2 separate regions of the Homo sapiens genome follow, and region 1 is linked to region 2. The links come from fine-mapping of genetic effects on gene expression. A gene starts in region 2. The other region holds a variant in brackets. All regions are shown on one strand. Distances are from middle to middle.

Region 1 (2,903 bases), 70 kb before region 2:
GGGGTGTCTTGTGTTGGGTATTGAAGGGTGAGTAGGAGTTCACCAAGCGAGTGCATGGAAAAGGGGGCATCCCTGGTGAAGGGAATAGCATGGGTAAAGGCGTGGAGATGAGAAGCCATGGTGTGACTCAGGAAGTGCCAGACCAGGCTATGTGGGATGGAGAATGGGCAGAGGCCTTGAGTGCCAAGCCTAGGGCAGTGGGGAGCCATAGAGGAGTTTAGAGCAGAGGAGGAATGTGGTCAGTGCAGCAGTGGAAGAGTGGGCATGGGGCAGTGAGCAGGGGTTGTGGCGAGGGGCCAGACTGGGCCCTGGATCCGGGCCAGACCCCCACATGTGTCCCCATCACCTGCAGGCCCCAAAGCCCAAGAGGAAGGTGGAGGTCTGGGAGCAGAGCGTTGGCAGCCTGGGCAGCCGGCCCCCGCTGTCGAGGCTGGTCGTGGTGAAGAAGGCAAAGGCCGACCCGGACTGCAGCAACGGGCAGCCTCAGGCGGCCCCCACCCCAGGTAAGGTCACAGAGTTCCCAGAGCCGGGCGCGGTTTCTATAGTGGCCTGTAGGTGGCAGCAGCTCCCTTTGCAGTTACAGAGACTTCATGGGGTGGGTGGGGGCGGCCTGCGACCCCCACAGGACCAATTAGTGGAGTGAGCAGAGAAGGCAGGCGGCTTCTTTTTTTCTTTTTTCTTTTTTCTTTTTTTTTTTTTGAGACAGAGTCTTGCTCTGTTGCCCAGGCTGGAGTGCAGTGGTGCCATCTCGGCTCACCGCAACCTCCGCCTCCCTGGTTTGAGCAGTTCTCTGCCTCAGCCTCCCAAGTAGCTGGGACTACAGCACCACGCCCGGCTAAATTTTTGTATTATTAGTAGAGGTGGGATTTCTCCATGTTGGTCAGGCTGGTCTGGAACTCCCGACCTCAGGTGATCCACTCACCTCGGCCTCCCAAAATGCTGGGATTACAGGCATGAGCCACCGCGCCCGGCCTGTTTTTGTCTTTTAGTTGCCTTAGTATGATGTTTCCTAAGGCGATTAAGTCCACAGTGACTGGACTGTGAACTTTGCGCCATTTCCATTCTTGGCAGCGCACGTTGCCTGCCTGGGCAAGGTTTGCATTGGCCATTGTTCAGAAGCGGAGCTGTTGAGTCCCGGGTGTGCAGATGTAAATCTGCAATGGGTCCCATCAGGTGCCATCCAGAAAGGCCAGGCCATTCACATGCTGTCACCTCTGGACCTTGCAAACCTGCAGAGGTGGCCGGCCCCGTGCCTTGTCCCTGGCCTGTCTGCT[G/C]TGGAGCTGAGATGAGCTAACTCTCGCTCTCCCACCAGGAGCCCCGCAGAACAGGAAGGAGGCCAACCCTACACCCCTGACGCCTGGCGCGTCCTCCCTGAGCCAACTGGGTGCATACCTGGACAGTGACGACAGCAACGGCAGCAACTGAGCCCTCCCAGGACCCCCTCACGGGGTCAAAGTCACACGTCCAGCTTCAGCCACATTGAGGCCAGCATTGCTGGTGGTCAGGGCAGGAGGCCTTGGCGTGACTGGAGGCCGGACAGACAAGCGCCAGCGTGCTCCAACACATAGGGCCACCAGGGGCCTCAGCCCCAGGAGGTCCCTTCTCTGTGCCCTCACCAGCCTCTCAACACCTCGGGGACCCCTGCTGCTCCTGCCCCCACCTGTCACTGTGCTTAGGGCTGCAACATCCCTGGAGCAGCTTCCAACACTACTTCAGGGTGGCAGTGTTTGGGGCACTGGGCGAGCCTGCCGGCCTCTAGATGGCCTCATCTCTTCCTTCCACAAACTGTCTAGAACCAATAAAAGGAAACCTGCCAACCGCCTGGGCCCCTTCTCTCTCCCAGAGTCTGATGAGGAGGTCCCAGGACCTCCTCTGTTAGCACAATTCGAGGGTCATTCCACAGAGGTTTGTTTGTGTCTTGAGACAGGATCTCACTCTGTTGCCCAGGCTGGAGTGCGGTAGCGTATTCTTGACTCACTGCAGCCTTGAACTTCCGAGCTCAGGTGATCCTCCCACCTCAGCCTCGCGAGTCGCTGAGACCTCAGGTGGATGCCACCATTCCTGGCTAACTTTTTGTATATTTAGTAGAGACTGGGTTTCATCATGTTGCCCAGGCTGATCTTGAACTCATGGGCTCAAGTGATCCTCCTGCCTCAGCCTCACAAAGTGCTGGGGTCACAGGCATAAGCCACTGTAACAGGCATGAGCCCAGATATTTATATTTAGTTGTCGCCTGAGTGTGCATCTGGGCTCTTTTTGTTTTCTCTTCTTTTTTTTTTTCTTTCTTTACCTTTTTTTTTTTTTTTTTTTTTTGGAGACGACGTCTCGCTCTTGTCCCCCAGGCTGGAGTGCGATGGCGCGATCTTGGCTCACTGCAACCTCCGCCTCCCGGGTTCAAGCGATTCTCCTGCCTCAGCCTCCAGAGTAGCTGGGATTACAGGCGCCCGCCACCACGCCTGGCTTAATTTTTGTATTTTTAGTAGAGACAGGGTTTCACCATGTTGGCCAGGCTGGTCTTGAACTCCTGACCTCAGGTGATCTGCCTGCCTCAGCCTCCCAAAGTGCTAAGATTACAGGCCTGAGCCATTGTGCCCTGCCTGTACAATCTTTTTGTTTGTTTGTTTGAGACAGAGTCTCCCTCTGTTGCCCAGGCTAGAGTGCAGTGGTGTGATCTTGGCTCACTGCAACCTCCACCTCCCAGGTTCAAGCAATTCTCTGCCTCAGCCTCCCCAGCAGCTGGGATTACAGGTGCCTGCCACCACGCCCAGCTAATTTTTGTGTTTTTAGTAGAGACGGGTCTCACCATCTTGGCCAGGCTGGTCTTGAACTCCTGACCTCAGGTGATCTGACTGCCTCAGCCTCCCAAAGTGCAGGGATTACAGGCGTGAGACACTGCACCAGCC
Region 2 (2,903 bases):
AGACAGGTGGATCACCTGAGGTCAAGAGTTCAAGACCAGCCGGGCCAACAAAATGAAACACTGTCTTTACTAAAAATACAAAAATTAGGTGTGGTGGTGCGTACCTGTAATCCCAGCTACTCGGGAGGCTGAGGCACGAGAATCGCTTAATCGTTTGAACCTGGGAGGTGGAGGTTGCAGTGAGCCGAGATGGTGCCACTGCACTGCAGCCTGGGTGACAGAGTGAGACTCAGTCTCAAAAATAAATAAATAAAATAAAAGCCAGAAGAGGCAGTGCATGCCTGTGGTCCCAGCTACTCAGGAGGCTGGGGCGGGAGGTTCACTTGAGCCCAGGAGTTTGAGGCTACAGTGAGCCATGATCGTGCCCCTGCACTCTAGCCTGGGTGACAGAGCAACTCTGTCTCTAACAAAAAGAAAGAAAGAAAATGAATATGCGGCATTGGGAAGGAGAGATAGGGCCTCACGGGGAACGGAGGGGCTGGGACTTTATTCTGAGGGAGACATAAGCACACACACACACACACATGCACGCACTGTCCATGGCAACTATCTGTCCTGTGGAATGTGGCCCCCGCTAGCTCTTACTGTCCTCACATGTCACCTGTCCTGGCCTTCGCCCCAGCAGCTGAGGTTCACGGAGTTTTTCCTGGGCTGGGAGCGGGAGGAAGCTCGGGAGTCAGAGGACTCCCCATTTCCTGGAGGAAGTCCCTGATCTTGTTTGTATTCAAGAGAGTGAACGAGAGACAAAAGCAAAGATTGAGACAAAGAGAGAGGGAGACTGAGACAGACATCGGGAGAGACAGACGGGGCCAGGGAGAGAGAAAGAGAAAAAGAAACCAAATTCAAAGACACACGGAGACAGAGATAGACGCACAGAGAGGCAGATGGCCAGAACCCACCCCAGTCCCCCAGCACGTGTCCTGCCCCATCCAGCACCCACCCCGCCCCCCCTTGGCGAGTGGGGAGACAGGGACTCAGAGAGGTGCCGCAGCTCCCCACGGTGGCCCAGCAGGGCCAGCCCCCGCCTCCCCACCTTACCCGGTCACAGGGCCCCTTCTTCTCTAGAAAGCTCTCATAGTAGTGTGAAGGCAGGACACCCTTAGGCTTGGGGACACGGGGTGGCCTCAGGGCAGAGGCCATGACGGAGCCAGGGTCTTCCGCCTGGCCTCTCCTTCCAGTGGGTGCCCCAGCTGGGCCGGGAAGCTGAGAAACAGGTTTCAGGGGAGTTTCCTGTGTCAGCCCGTCAACTCCCTCCCCTGCCAGGGCTGGGCAGAGGCTGATCCCAGCAGGTCCAGTGATCCTAGGGAAATCCCCGCCTCTCCGGTGTGGAACTGAGAACAGAGAGAATGTATAAGTCTACTTGAATGGGAGAATAATCTTCGCTATATCTGCAAAGACAGAGACATGGTCTGTCTCTTTATTTATTTATTTATCTATTTTTCCTATTTTGAGACAGAGTTTCACTCTGTTGCCCAGGCTGGAGTAAAGTGGTATGATCTTGGCTCACTGCGACCTCTGCCTCCCGGGTTCAAGAGACTGCGCTGCCTCCCGGGTTCAGAGACTGAGTCCAAGCTCAGTCTCCTGACTAGCGTGGATTGCAGGTGACCGCCACCACGCCTGGCTAATTTTTGTATTTGTAGTAGAGACGAGGTTTCCCCATGTTGGCCCAGGCTGGTCTCGAACTCCTGACCCCAAGTTTTCTGCCCGCCTCAGCCTCCCAAAGTGCTGAGATTACAGGCATGAGCCACCACACCTGGCCCTTTCTCTTACTTTGATGGACCCTAATGATTACATTGGGCCCACCTGGATAATCCACGCTACTCTCCCTATTTTAAAGTCAGCTGACTAGCAACTTTAATTTCATCTGCAATTTTTCTTTTTTAGACGGTGTCTCATTCTGTTGTCGATGCTGGAGTGCAGTGGCACGATCATAGTTCACTGCAGCCCTGACCTCCCAATCTCAAGCGGTCCTCCTGCCTCAGCCACCCGAAGAGCTGGGACTATAGGTGGGCACCACCACACCCAGCTAATTTATTTTCCTTTTTTAAGGATGAGTTCTCACTATGTTGCCTAGGCTGGAGTACAGTGGGGCGATCATGACTCACTGTAGCCTCGACCTTACAGGCTCAAGTGATCCTCCAGCCTCAGCCTCCAGAGTAGGTGGTACTACAGTTGCATGCCACCACACCTGGCTAATTTTTTTTTTTCTTTTTTTTGAGACAGACTCTCGCTCTGTAGCCCAGGCTGGAGTGCAGTGGCGTGATCTCGGCTCACTGCAAGCTCCGCCTCCCAGGTTCATGCCATTCGCCTGGCTCAGCCTCCCAAGTAGCTGGGATTACAGGTGCCTGCCACCACGCCCAGCTAATTTTTACACTTACTAGAGACAGGTTCTTGCTATGTTGCCCAGGCTGGTCTTTTTTTTTTTTTTTTTTTGAGACAGAGTCTTACTCTGTCACCCAGGCTGGAGTGCAGTGGAGCGATCTCGGCTTACTGCAACCTCTGCCTCCCAGGTTCAAGCAATTCTCCTGCCTCAGCCTCCCGAGTAGCTGGGATTATAGGCACGTGCCACCATGCCCAGCTAATTTGTTTGTATTTTTATTTTAGTAGAGATGGAGTTTCACTGTGTTAGCCAGGATGGTCTTAATCTCCTGACCTTGTGATCCACCTGCCTCGACCTCCCAAAGTGCTGGGATTACAGGCATAAGCCACCGTGCCCGGCCCTCAGGCTAGTCTTGAACTCCTGGGTGCAAGTGATCCTCCAGTCTAGGCCTCCCAAAGTGCTGGGGTTACAGGTGTGTGCCACTGTGCCTGGCGTCTATCTTTAATCTTCAAATCCCTTTGCCACGTATCCTAACGTATTCACAGATTCTGGGAATTAGGGCGTGGATATCTTTAAGAGACCA

Evidence for each region. PIP is the estimated chance that this variant, and not a neighbour inherited with it, causes the effect.
Region 1: its variant is fine-mapped to the expression of STAP2 in stomach (GTEx, PIP 0.90).

Annotation. Positions count from the first base shown.
Region 1 is chr19:4,267,272-4,270,174 of GRCh38, forward strand. It overlaps YJU2 (YJU2 splicing factor homolog), which reads left to right. Exons shown (of 8, transcript NM_018074.6): 7 at 353-503; 8 at 1,313-1,817. The coding sequence ends at 1,425. Among named protein-coding and RNA genes, the nearest start is that of SHD, 11 kb to the right of the region's middle. The variant G/C (reference allele first, on the strand shown) is at 1,275.
Region 2 is chr19:4,337,614-4,340,516 of GRCh38, forward strand. STAP2 (signal transducing adaptor family member 2) reads right to left here and starts at 1,214. Exons shown (of 13, transcript NM_001013841.2): 1 at 1,039-1,214. The coding sequence starts at 1,140.